Homo sapiens: one gene and its partners. The protein of the gene in region 2 purifies or fractionates together with the protein of the main gene of each other region. This does not show direct contact. Each region holds a gene or a part of one and is shown on either strand. Other genes may lie near its edges.

What was found.
Region 1: the proteins of CCP110 (region 2) and ACTR3 purify together in Homo sapiens (affinity purification with mass spectrometry, with the first as the bait; one large-scale study listed by BioGRID). This does not show direct contact.
Region 3: the proteins of CCP110 (region 2) and CEP131 purify together in Homo sapiens (co-immunoprecipitation; one large-scale study listed by IntAct). This does not show direct contact.
Region 4: the proteins of CCP110 (region 2) and CARNMT1 purify together in Homo sapiens (co-immunoprecipitation; one large-scale study listed by IntAct). This does not show direct contact.

What each region holds. Positions count from the first base shown.
Region 1 is NC_000002.12:113,896,589-113,900,088, reverse strand, and holds part of ACTR3 (actin-related protein 3), read right to left. Parts: intron 1-3,500. UniProt on the Homo sapiens protein: ATP-binding component of the Arp2/3 complex, a multiprotein complex that mediates actin polymerization upon stimulation by nucleation-promoting factor (NPF).
Region 2 is NC_000016.10:19,544,442-19,547,941, forward strand, and holds part of CCP110 (centriolar coiled-coil protein of 110 kDa), read left to right. Parts: intron 1-355; coding exon 356-457; intron 458-652; coding exon 653-769; intron 770-1,375; coding exon 1,376-1,449; intron 1,450-1,970; coding exon 1,971-2,033; intron 2,034-3,500.
Region 3 is NC_000017.11:81,189,096-81,191,965, forward strand, and holds the end of CEP131 (centrosomal protein of 131 kDa), read right to left. Parts: intron 2,256-2,870; coding exon of another isoform or gene 2,241-2,255; coding exon 2,098-2,240; intron 1,990-2,097; coding exon 1,812-1,989; intron 1,708-1,811; coding exon 1,544-1,707; intron 881-1,543; coding exon 820-880; coding exon of another isoform or gene 749-819; coding exon 674-748; 3' UTR 501-673; downstream 1-500. UniProt on the Homo sapiens protein: Component of centriolar satellites contributing to the building of a complex and dynamic network required to regulate cilia/flagellum formation.
Region 4 is NC_000009.12:75,021,794-75,025,293, forward strand, and holds part of CARNMT1 (carnosine N-methyltransferase), read right to left. Parts: intron 1-3,500.

The sequences.
Region 1 (3,500 bases), on a different chromosome or scaffold from region 2:
CTCAATAAAGCTGTATAAAGTAAAATACTAGACCCAGACTAATAGTGCATAAATTTACCTTTTATCACTCTTTTGCTTAATGATCTACACAATCCACTACTGTCTATCAAATAAATCGCAAACCATTCTGCCCCATTTAAAATCCTTCTGAAATAAGGCAAGATGAGTAAATAAACTACTTGCTGTCCCACAGCTCCCAACAGAAATATCTGAATTCCAGGCAGGGCAATTTCCTAACTGACCCATCCCCCAAATACTTTGAAACTCCTTCATGACTTCCCTTTATCAGTAAAATATTTGCTGGGCATTATTAAATATCATGCAGGACGCTATCACTTGAATAGAGAATGCACAAAAAAGAAATAATCCCTGCCACTATGGAGCTTTCAATTTAGCTCACATCCTAGATTTGAAGTCCTTCTTCCCATATATCTATCACATCCTATTTATGCTTTTCCAAGGATCTGATCAAGTTCAGCTTCTTCATAAATCATCCTCCAAATACTACAGCCCTTATTAATCTGCCCAAACAATTAAATGCTAGTAAGCCATCCATAATTATTTCACACATATTAGTTTCATCTTTGAAACTAAACTGTAAACCTCAAGTATAAAATCATGCCTTAGTTTTCTTGTATATACCATAGTGTTCAGCACAGAACTGAGACTGAAATAAATACTTGATTACTTTAAGTTCTTCTATTTTTTTACTTTCATATGTGTTTTGTGCAGTCATTAATGAGCACATAATACATAGTGAGTAAAATAATTACAGTAAGTAATGCATCAGTGGAGATTATTCATTTTCAAATTGCAGCTTCAGAAATATGTATGCCTTCCTTTTGAAGATATATGTAATTAGCATCATTTCCTTGAGCTGCCCTGAATTTATCAGCAATTATCAGTCCTTGCAATACTCAAATAAGCAGTAAGCAAATCCATATTTCACTTTAATGTGTTATAGGTTAATCAAATCAGTGAACTGGTCACTAAGACCTCCCTATATGTTTCATATTTGTACTAAAAATTAGTAGCTTTGGGTTTAAGTATGTATAAAATGGACACTCTTAAAAACTGGACTAATAATTTGACCACTCTCCTTGGATGTATCTCAATTAGGGAACAGTAGAGCAGTGAGCTCTGGAATGAGACTACCCCAGGACTAAAATTCTAAATCTACTACTTATCTTTGAAATGGGATTATTTATAACAGTAACTACCTCACAGGGCTTCTGAAAAGGTAATAACATCCAAAACAAAACGTGCAAAGGGCCTTGAAATGGCTGATTGGTACACATCCCATTTAATACATCTTTAATAATTAAAATCCAAAGATATAAATCTCTGAAACCATAAAGAAAAATTTTTTTAAAGAGAGCATTCATTTTATGAAAGTCATCTGTCCTGGCACCTACAGAGCACAACTTTTAAAATATCTCTAAACTTGGTTTAAAACATTATTATTGGGAAACATAAAATTAGTTTCTCATGTGTGCCATACAGTATGCCTCTGCATTACAACGAAACACTGAAGAATTCTGATGTAGGCTTCAACTAAAACTACTTTAACTATAAATAAAATACATTATGTTATTCCAATTACTTAATTTCAACTATTAACTCATAAATGTGAACTCACAAGAAAATTTAAGAGAACTCAACAATACTATCAATTAATAATTAGGAACACTCCCAAAAGACATTTCTCAACTCTGAGCCTCTGTTTCATTTGTAAATGAAGACTGGATTAAATTATCTCTCAAAATCCCTTTTCAGCTCTATAATTCTGTGTGAGTCATTAGGCATTTCCCTTAATTTACTAAAGCAAGTTTCACAAATACACATTAAATGCTATATTTGTACCCTTGAGTAACTGAATTTTAAAAATGCTTATAGCAGAAGCACACTAGATTTAACTAAAATAATCTCTATAACTAGGCAAACACTTGTGTCCTGTCATACACTAATACTAAAAACATGGTTTACATGTTTACAGTAGATTAAGCCAACCCTAAACTACAAGGTCTTCTGCACCCTAATTCTCTCTCTAGGACTTTTATCCTCCTCATTGTAACCTCTCCTTTACACTAAATACTGAAAAGCACAGAAACCCTTCCCAAGAGCATTGCATTTTCACAAATGACACAAAGTCTTAAAGCAAGGACAAAATGTTTAAAAATAAAACGTTTAGGTAATGTCCTTCGGCAGGAGGAAAACATGGCATGTTGAGTATCCGAACAGATGAATATTCTTCTCAGGTATGTATTAGGGTTGGGGAGCAGAAGGAAAGCTGAAAGAATACATCTGGCCGAGACGGGTGGATCACTTGAGTTCAGGAGTTCAATATCAGCCTGGCCAATATGGTGAAACCCGGTCTCTACTAAAAACACAAAAATTAGCCAGGCATCGTGGCGGGTGCCTATAATTCCAGCTACTCGGGAGGCTGAGGCAGAAGAATAGCTTGAACCCTGGAGACGGAGGTTTCAGCAAGCCAAGATCACGCCACTGCACTCTAGCCTGGGTGACAGAGCAACACTCTGCCTCAAAAAAAAAAAAAAAAAAAAAAAAAATAACATCTGGCCACACAAATTCAAGCTATTCCTTTCCTGGTTCCAAGGAGTATGTAAGAATGGCTTGAGTTTAAATCGACAGTTTGGAAAGAATTTTGAAAATTCTGAAACAAAATTATTATTAAAATTCTGCAAAATCGTCCTTTAAAAAAACTAGAATTTTTTTTCTTTTTTTTGCTCTGGTATTAGTCAATTATGTAGGTTACGTTGTTTCCTGATATAAAGGCCCATATAAAGTTATAAAATCAGCACACAAACTAATATTAGTCACTATCCTATTTCAAAGAACTAAATTTAAAACAATCCAATAACATCACCTTATCTCCTATCTAATAATTCATAAATGTCGTGTTTGGTAAGCTACAGCACACATTTTTGTAGTGCTATTATTACTTAATTGCTTTGCTCTTGCTTCTTTATGCTACTGTCTATCACTGATTATGGTTGTGTCATAAAAAAGGCAACAAGCTCCAACAGAATTACAAGGGAGCATTCAAATGCTTTTTTTATTATAGTGGAATTTTGTTTCAGGAAACACATGTTGCTACATTTTAACCATTCCAAACTTCTGCTCCTAGTCCAATCCTTTAGCTGTTTCCACAAGTTGGGGGAGCAGGAGCATGCTGGACAAGGGAAATTTAGCTAGAGCTAAACTCTCCTCCTGATTAAGGATTTTGCCTCTTAGAAAATTGAATGACATAGGTGGAGATAAGATTGTCAGCATAGCGATCAATTACCACGAGCCAATCAGTCACTGTGATGCTCAAGAAGCTAGATCACATATCCACAATTTTTTTAAAGAAGGGAAACTGATATTCAATCTTTCCGTTCTTTTCTCTCTGAATGCTCTCATCTTATTAGCTTCAGTTAACAAATTATGATTCCCAAATATCCACCTTCATTCCCAAAGGTCCTGTATTTTTAATTTCC
Region 2 (3,500 bases):
ACAAATGATGGTTGTGTCTGTACTGAACATGTACAAATTTTTTTTCCTTGTCATTATTTCCTAAACAATATAACAACTATTTACATAGCATGTACATTTATTAGGTATTTTAACTAATCTAGAGATGATTTAAAGTATATGGGAGATGTGCTTAGGTTATATGCAGATAACTATTTTATATAAGGGACTCCAGCATCCTTGGATTTTGGTATCTGAGGGATTCATGGAACCAGTCCCCCACAGATACTGACGAAAGACTGTAATTTTGGATTGACTGAGAAAAAGAAAAAAGCAAACTCCAGTGATCACAAATCTTTCTAGAAAAATGTTTTTGAAGGAGCATTTCTTTTTTCAGGATACTATGGAATTCATAAGAAGTTTTCAGTCAGAAGCACCATTAAAGAGAGGCATTGTTTCAGCTCAAGATGCTTCACTTCAGGAAAGAGTGTTAGCTCAGGTAAATACATGGATCCTGAAGGCTTTTAAGACATGGACATATTATATTTCTCCTTTTTTATTTAATCACTGAAAATAGGTTTCAATGAAAACTATTTTAATCTTTTTCTATAAATAAGTGTACATGGTATATAGTATTCCTGAACTCTAACCTCATCTTTTAAATGTATACAATATTTTCTTCTCTTGTGCCTAGTTGCGAGCTGCCTTGTACGGTATTCATGACATATTCTTTGTAATGGATGCAGCTGAAAGAATGTCTATTCTACATCATGATCGAGAAGTTCGCAAAGAGAAAATGCTCAGGCAAATGGTATGTTATATGATTTCTAATGAATAGAGTTCTTCTGGGTTTAGGGTAATTGATACTAAATGTCAGTTTTGGTTGACTTCAGCACCCTTCTTCTGATAATTCTTAAGCACAAGTAATTCCTGGAATTACTAGCAGCATTTAAATCTGTAGACAGATTTAAAAGAATTACATCATTTAAGAATTACATATTGTTTTCTTATTGGATTTTAGAGTTGAAGCTTTGAATGTTTTGCTCAGATGGCTTATACAATCTATCAGCTGCTCCTGATTGAATTTCCTTGAATTCAATTATAATGTGGGTTTTGCTTTTTTTGAAATCTGAGTTAGAAAACAGGCTCCAAGTTAATTTGAAGTATATCAGAGTATGTGATTTGAATCAGTTATCTTAGTGTGATTGGCAAAGGAAAAGCAAGCAAAATTTACATAATTCTAATTATTTAATTCTTAGAATTAGACTGCTTCAAAAATACAAAACAAGATGATTTAACTAAATTAAAAATGTTAGTAGAGAGAAGCTTTTCCAGGCAATGTGGGATTATAATACATTATAATATAGTGGTATTAATTGGTTCCAGTAGAGTTTGACGTTACTTTTGTATATTAAAGGATAAAATGAAAAGTCCACGAGTGGCTCTTTCAGCTGCAACACAGAAGTCTCTTGATAGGAAGAAATACATGAAGTAAGTTTTTTGTATCATGTCATGTTAGTTATCAAACCAATTAATTTTAGTCATCTGTTGGTCTATTTGCATATTTAAATTTAGAAATAAAGAGTTAATTTTTCTGCAGTTGAGCTGATAGAAATCCCCTTTATATAAAGAAATTTATTAAAATCAGGTGCTAAAATCTCATTTCATCTTAGATGAATTTATTTACTAAATTTGACAACATTCAACTCATATAACTGATAGCTGGTTAATCTTAAAAACAGTTAATCTTTATATTCAGTGCCTAAATATATTCCTTTTCTGATGTCCTAAAGGTTTCTTGGGAATAAAGACTTAATGGGAAAAATATCTTAATAACTTTTTTAAAAAATTCTTCTTTCTTGAATGCAGTCTTTAATATGCTTAGTACAGGTCTTCCAGTAGTACACCAGCTTCTAAATGATGATTTGTTTCTGTCATCCTGTATTACATTTGTAAGCATGTTTTCTTCCCTTCTCTAAATACATTATGTCCTTATTTTTATATTGTGTTAGAGCTGCTGAAATGGGAATGCCAAATAAGAAATTTCTGGTTAAACAAAATCCTTCTGAAACAAGGTGAGAAAAATCACTTAGTCTTAATGAGAGGCTTTTTGTTTTTTATAGAAAAAAAAAATTGGCTGGGCACGGTGGCTCACGCCTGTAATCCCAGAACTTTGGGAGGCCAAGACGGATGGATCACCTGAGGTCGGGAGTTTGAGACCAGCCTGACCAACATGGAAAACCCCATCTCTACTAAAAATACAAAATTAGCTGGGTGTGGTGGCACATGCCTGTAATCCCAGCTACTCAAGAGGCTGAGGCAGGAGAATCGCTTGAACCCGGGAGGCAGAGGTTGCAGTGAGCCAAGATTGCTCCATTGCACTCCAGCCTGGGCAACAAGAGTGAAACTCTATCTCAAAAAAAAAAAAAAAAAAAGTTAAAAAATTAAAATTTAAATCCCAAACTTCATTTTTGTTGACTTTGTTCTACTTGACATCAGTAGAGCACTTCTTGCTGAATTGGGTCGGGGGTCGTCCTCAGGCTCAAGATTCATACCAATACCTGGCCATATACCTAGTCACATGTCAGACCAGATGTGCCCGGACCTTTTGTAGGACATGCTATCTGTGGTAGAAATTTTGAGCGTGGTATGTCTTGAGTTCAGTTAGACAGTCCAGAGGATCTTTGATACTTATTTAAAAACCTTAGAAAGCTAATTTAAGCTGGGCTGGGAGCAGTGGCTCATGCTTGTTATCCTAGCAGTCTGGGAGGGTGAGGTGGGTGGATCACGAGGTCAGGAGTTCAAGACCAGCCTGGCCAAGATGGTGAAATCCTGTCTCTATTAAAAATACAAAAATAAAAGATACAAAAAGCCGGGTATGATGGCGCGTGCCTGCTCAGCTACTCAGGAGGCTGAGGCAGGAGAATTGTTTGAACCTGGGAGGCGGAGGTTGCAGTGAGCCGAGACTGCACCACTGTACTCCATCCTGGGCGACAGAGCAAGGGTCCGTCTCAAAAAAAAGCTAACTTAAGCTGGGCACAGTGGCATGCTCCTATGGTCCCAGGTACTCGGGAGGCTGAGGCAGGAGGATAGCTTAAGCCCAGAAATTCAAACCAGTATGGGTAACATAGTAAGACCCATCTCAAAAAAATAAATAAATAAAAAATAAAGCTAAAAAGCGAACTTTAATATTTCTGACCTGTTTTTTACTCCTGTAAAATGAGAGTGATACTTTCTTCTCTCACTGGTTTGAAGGGAAAAGTTAGCTTTTGTAAAGCATATGTATAAGAAAATTATCTAAAAGCACAAGGGTTAGTCTATATGTTGGACATTTCTTTGCTGATAAAAACCTAAGGTTTGGACTCTTAGTGAGCAAAATACAAGTATCATATTAATATGCTTTAGTCGATTTGCTCTGATTTGTGGTAATATATAGGCCATATTATTGCATAGTTGACCTTTACCTTACAGTCATCATCTTTCATCCGTTGAAAGAAAATGGGAAAAAATGGAATTTAACCTATTAAATTAATTTTTCATTT
Region 3 (2,870 bases), on a different chromosome or scaffold from region 2:
AGCTCCAGACTGTCACACCTTGACAGCGGGGAGGGTAGGGCTTCCTGTCCCTCTGGAGTCTCTCCAGCCATAGGAGCACGCTGGCAGCCATGGGCTTCCAGCACCTGCAGGGCCACGGCGGGGCCCTCGGAGCTCCTCCCAGGGGGTGAGTTCTGCTGAGTTCCTCCTGCGCCTGGCCAGGAACGGGGTAGGGAATTCCCTGTGCTTGGGACTTCCAGGGTCCAGGGCAAGGCAGGGAACAGGAACTTGGGGGTTGGGTTGAATGCTGGGGAGCTGAGGGCTGAGTGCAGGGGGGCTGCTGGCTGAGTGCTGGGGGCTGCTGGCTGAGTGTTGAGGGCTGCTAGCTGGGGGGCTGATGGCCAAGCTTCGTGATTTCCTGGTCAGCCTGCTCAGGCTGCGGAGGGGAGTGGGAGGAAGAGAGCCAAACCCACGCCTGGCTGCTCTGGGGGTCTTGGGCAGCCTCTAGCCCAGGAGAGAAGACAAGGCAGTCACTCAAGGCGCTGAAAACAACGGCCTCCTTTACTGTTAAAATGCAGCCACAGGTGCTTAGCCGTGGGCATCTCAACCACCAGCCTCTGTGGGGGGCAGGTGGGCGTCCCTGTGGGCCTCTGGGCCCACGTCCAGCCTCTGTCCTCTGCCTTCCGTTCTTCGACAGTGTTCCCGGCATCCCTGGTCACTTGGTACTTGGCGTGGGCCTCCTGTGCTGCTCCAGCAGCTCCTCCAGGTGGTCGGCCCGCTTCACCGCAGCCTGCAGCACACCCACAGGGTCAGGCCTGCTCCCAGCCCCGAGGTCCAGCAGGGCTGGCCACAGGGACTCACCTCATGTTGTGTCCGGAGGCTGCTCACGGCCTCCTCCTTCCTCGCGAGGGCTGTCTTCACCCTGTGGGTAGTACATGGTAGGCTTCAGTGTGGCCCCCGCCCCATGTCCCCAGAGTGGCCTGCAGTGCACAGGGTGCACGGGGCAGCCGCCTGGTCAGCCTGGTCCCAGCCCTGCTGACCACGACTCCTGTGGCTGGCCCAGACAGCTGTCCAGGCAACCCACCTGCTGTGAGTCAGGACCCAACACAGGCCACTGGAGTATGACCCTGGCCACACCTGGGGAGGCCTGGTACCCAGATGGGGTGGGACACCTCGCCCACACCCACCTCTCAGCCTGTGGCAGCAGATGGCACAGGAAGGATGCAGGACCCCCGTGGAGGGAGCTCGCTGGGAACCTTACAGTGCCCCAGCTCTTTCAGCGCCTGTCCACCCAGCCCAGGGCCCCGGGAGCTGACTCCCTGGAGAACTCGCCAGGCCCAGACCCGACCCACTCGGGTGCCCCAACAGGGATGGCCGACACCCTAGACTAAGCACCAGGGAGGAAAACAGATCTAGGTCTCCTGGGCCCCAAACATGGAACCCACACCAGCCTCTGTCTACAGGGCCCTGTCTCTGCATCTCCTGGCCTTCCTCAGCCACAGCCTCCTGGGGCTTGGAGCTGCAGAGGTCCTGCCCGCTCCCCTGCCCCGCCTCCGTCTCCAGCCCTGCAGCCCCCGCCGCCCACCTCCGGTGCACCTCCTCCAGCTCCAGCTGCTGGCGGGCCTGCAGCGTGGCCAGCTCGGCCTTGGCCTGCCGCGTCTCCTCCTCAGAGGCTGCCAGCCGGTCCTCGAACTCCTGGCGGATCACCTGGGCCAGGTTGCTGCGCTCGCTAGAAAGCTGCTCGTTCACCTGGGTGGGCACAGAAGGCAGTGAGCCGGCTGCCAGCGACTGGCTGCGTGCATGCAGGAGGGGCCTGTGGGTGCCCACTGCCCACCTGACACCCGCCCACTCACCGCCTGCGCATCCTCCAGCGCCCGCTCCTTCTGCCGCACAAGGCCCTGCAGACGCAGATTCTCGCCCTCGGCCTCCCCAAGCTGGCCCTTCAGCTCCGAGCACCGCTCCTGAAGCTTCCGCTCCGACTGCTCCAGCTCGGAGAGCTCGGCCTCGTACTTGTCCCGTAAGCGCTTGATGCTGGAGGTGGGGGGAGGGCAGGGTCACTCCAGCCCAGTCACACACGGGTCCTTGCGCCTCAGCTCGTGGGCCTCCCCAGCTGGTGACCCAGCCATGGCGGGTCCTTACCGGCTCTCGGCAGCCTTCTCACTCTCCTCCTTGGCCAGCGCCATGTCGGCCTCCAGCCGGTGAATGACCAGCTCAATCTCCTTGTCCCGGCCTTTCCGGATTTCTTCCCTCAGCTCCTGTTCCCGGTTCAGCAGCCACGCCTCCTGGGGGGACATGCGCTGCCTGGGGGTTGCCACCCGGAGCCGGCCCGCGGGGCCAGGGCCAGCCTCAGGGGGTCCTGGGGGGCTCCAGGCTCTGAGCCACAGGGGAGCAAGGGGCCTTCCCCCTCTCCAGACCCCTGTCCAGGGGTGCGCTACGTCCTGTTGTCAGGACCCAGTGTGGGCATAGGCGTACCAGAGATCGTCATGATGCACAGCCCACGGTCCCCTCCCTCAGAGACCCACAGCCCATGACAACCTGAGGCCACCTTCTGCTACCAGATGGGATGGGAAAGTTGGACTTGCGTGTTGCTGAGGGCGGGGCCTGGGCCCCCAAGCCCAGGCATTCAGAGCCTAAGCTGGCAGCCTCCTGGAAGCCTCTGAAAACTCCCAGAGTTTCATCTGTCCAGCCCTGGGCCCCACAGGGCTACGTCGGGAGCATGCTACTGGGCCCAGAGGCATCCACTGCCAAAGCCTGCCTGGCTGCTCGGTGACATCCCAGCCCACCAGGGTGTGAAACCAGGTGACGGGCACGGTCAGCCTGGACTGTAGCCTCGCGGCGGGCATGGGTGGTGAGAATGTGTGTGGGACTGTCACCGTGGCAGAGTCCACCCCCCACAGAAGGCCCCAGAGGCT
Region 4 (3,500 bases), on a different chromosome or scaffold from region 2:
CAGGCGTGGTGGTGCATGCCTGTAGTCTCACCTACTTGGGAGGCTGAGGTAGGAGAATTGCTTTAGCCCAGAAAGTCAAGGGGGCAGCGAGCTATGATTGTGTCACTGCACTACAGGCTGCGTAACAGAGCAAAAACCCTGTCTCCAAAAAAGAGAAGAAAAAAAAAAGTCATCTAGCATCTTACTTTTTTTAAGCTGAATACTGACAAATTATAATTGTCTATATTTGTGGGGTACAAAGTGGATGTTCATCATTCCATCTTAGGTAACCATCAGTGACTTAGCTATTTCCCAACTACTGGGCATTTAGACACTCACTTGTTTTTGTGATGAACATTTTGTGTTCAAAATCTGTCTATAATTTAGGAAAAAAATTAGCATAAACTCTCAAAACCAGAATTACCAGGTGAGAAGGAATACTTTTTTTTTTTTTTTTTTTTTTTTTTTGGAGATGGAGTCTCACTCTGTCACCTAGGCTGGAGTACAGTGGCATGATCTCAGCTCACTGCCAGCTCTGCCTCCCAGCTTCAAGCGCTTCTTCTGGTTCAGTCTCCCAAGTAGCTGGGACTACAGGTGCACACCACCATGCCCGGCTAATTTTTATATTTTTAGTAGAGATGGGGTTTCACCATGTTGGTCAGGCTGATCTTGAACTCCTGACCTGAAGTGATCTGCCAACCTTGGTCTCCAAAAATATTGGGATTATAGGCGTGAGCCCCTACACCTGGCCAGGAGTTAGTATTTTTAAGGCTCTTGATATAAAATGATGTGCAAAAAGACTCCATAAATTTACATTCCTAACAGCAGAGTATGACATTAAAGGAACTAAAATGGCCACATCAAGTTAGGCAAACAGCAGAGCTTCAACAGTTGAACAGCCTCACAGAGCTTTCTTCCTAGTGTTTACTCCCGGGCTCTGGATGCCCCACAACTTCCCTCTCACCATACTCAAAACTCATATCCAAAGTGAACTTAGCACATGCCCCACAAAAACCTGCCCTCCTTCCTTCATGGCTAAGATTAACAAATGCACCCAAGTTAGAAATTAAAGGAGTCATCAGCCGGGCATGGTGGCTCACGCCTGTAATCCCAGCACTTTGAGAGGCTGAGGTGGGCAGATCACTTCAGGTCAGGAGTTCGAGATCAAGAACATCCTGGCTAACACAGTGAAACCCTGTCTCTACTAAAAATACAAAAAATTAGCCAGGCATGGTGGCATGCGCCTGTAATCCCAGCTACTTGGGAGGCTGAGGCAGGAGAATCGCTTGAACCTGGGAGGCAGAGGTTGCAGTGAGTTGAGATTGTGCCACTGCACTCCAGCCTGGGTGACAGAGCAAGACTCAAAAAAAAAAAAAAAAAAGAAAAAGAAATTAAGGAGTCATCCTAAATGCCTCTTCTCCTAGTCCCACAATCAATAAACCCAGGATACTTTTCAATTCTACTTCCTAACTCCTCCCCTGCCCTTCCTGCCCCACCTCTAATCAGAAGAATTATTCTAAAACACAAGTGTCATCTTGGTCATTATTCAATATCTCCGTATTTCAGCATATGTAAAAAGCAATAAATGTTCAGTTATATTCCCACGGGTGCCACTTTTGGTTTTCCATGGAGACTACTTATCACCAAGTAATATCAAGGTTGCAAGGGTGAGTTGAGATAAGTTATAGATTGGTTACAAGAGCTGTCAATTTTTGATACAGAAGTAACTACACAGAGCAGGATGAGATCCTTAAACCCCTGGTTACTTAATGGTGTGCAAAGCTGCCATAACATACATCCACCAGTGACTCTTAAAATAGGTGGGATCTTACTAAAGTTGAGAATATAGTCCAATCCTTATTATACCCTTATAACTGGGGCTAACTTCACTATCCTGCACATGCTTACGCTATCAGAATTGCTTTAAGGCAGGGGCCCATTGGCTACCTGGTTTTTGTACAGTCTTATTGGTACAAAGCCACACTATTTGATTACACAAAGCCTAAGGCTCCTTCCATTCAAGGGCAGAGTTGATGAGTTGTAACAAGAGACCACTTGGCCTTCAGAGCTTAAAATATTTACTGCCTGGCCCTTTTAAGAAACTCTGCCAAACCTGCTTTGAAGGAGTATTTTACAAAAATCAGACTCTCCTTGGTTCTGAACTAAGTCAGCATCAGGAGGTGACATCCTCTTGCTGATAAGAGGAGAAAGTAAACTTAGTAGCCATTTTTCCCCAATGGTGGTATCTCTACCTCTAACTCTCTCTAGAAACCTGGTGTCAGCAGTGACCTCAACTCTGATTTAGTCACCTGTCATCAGGGTGAGCCCACACCAGGTCTGATCTAAAGGCCATGGTCACAGGCCCATTCCTCTGCACCTAGTTGAACTACTCTAGGAAATCCAAATAGAAAAAACATAACTTGTCAGAAACAAAGCCTGGCCTGTCTTGATTCATTTTAAATCTTTATTAAATACCTAACATTAAATTTGTGTTACTAGTATAACTCCTCATTAATGCACAGTAAAATTTTAGGTAACGATTTTGGATTTTAGGTCAGATTCTACCACAACTGGATTGTGTAACCCTGAGCAAGTTGCTTACCGCTTTGTGTCTATCCACATCCTCACCTGTAAAAATCAGTTCTAAATCTCAATATTAAAAAATCTCACCCCGTTATTTCTAAAAGTAAGAAGTTTCTGAAAAGACTTTCAGCTTTTCAACTCTAGTGTTTTCTATGTGCTGAGGTGCTTCATTCGTAACAAGACTGGGTTATAAAACTAACATTTTTGCTATTCAATACAAATGAGCTATATCCATTTTTACCTTAATGAGAATGTCATCTAAGCAAAATCTGTGGGAATCACAAAATTGAAACCCATTAGAAAGAGAAAATATTAATCAAAAGACATTCCTTGCTTTATGACCTTTTATCTAAATCTCCTACGTATTAACTAAAAGACATTTTGCAGTAAAATTGAACCCTGCAAAATCTGGACGTACAGCTGACCCTTGAACAATACTTGGGTTGGGGCACCAACCCCCTGTGCAGTCGAAAACCCACACCTAACTTTGATTCACCAAAAACTTAACTACTAATAGCCTACTACTGACCGAAAGCCGTACCAATAACATAAACAACTGACAGATATGTTGTATGTTAATATATTACGTACTATATTCTTACAATAAAGCTAAGAAAATATTAAGAAAGTCGTAGGAAAGGGAAAATACATTTACACTACTGCACTGCATTTATCAATACTATAAGTTTACATAATTTGATTACAAGATGAATCCTCTGTCTGAAATGGGGTTGGGGGGCAACCTCCAACTGCAGACCTCTATCTACAGTACATATCAAACAAATCAACTTTTTCTTGTAATGTCTTTTTTCTCTGCTTCTTGGGAGCACCTGCAGCATCACCAGTGGCACGTCATATGGGACCCATGGTGTTATTTAAGGTTTATGGTATTGCATTAAATTTGATGAAATCTGTTTACTGCTATATGCAATTTACTT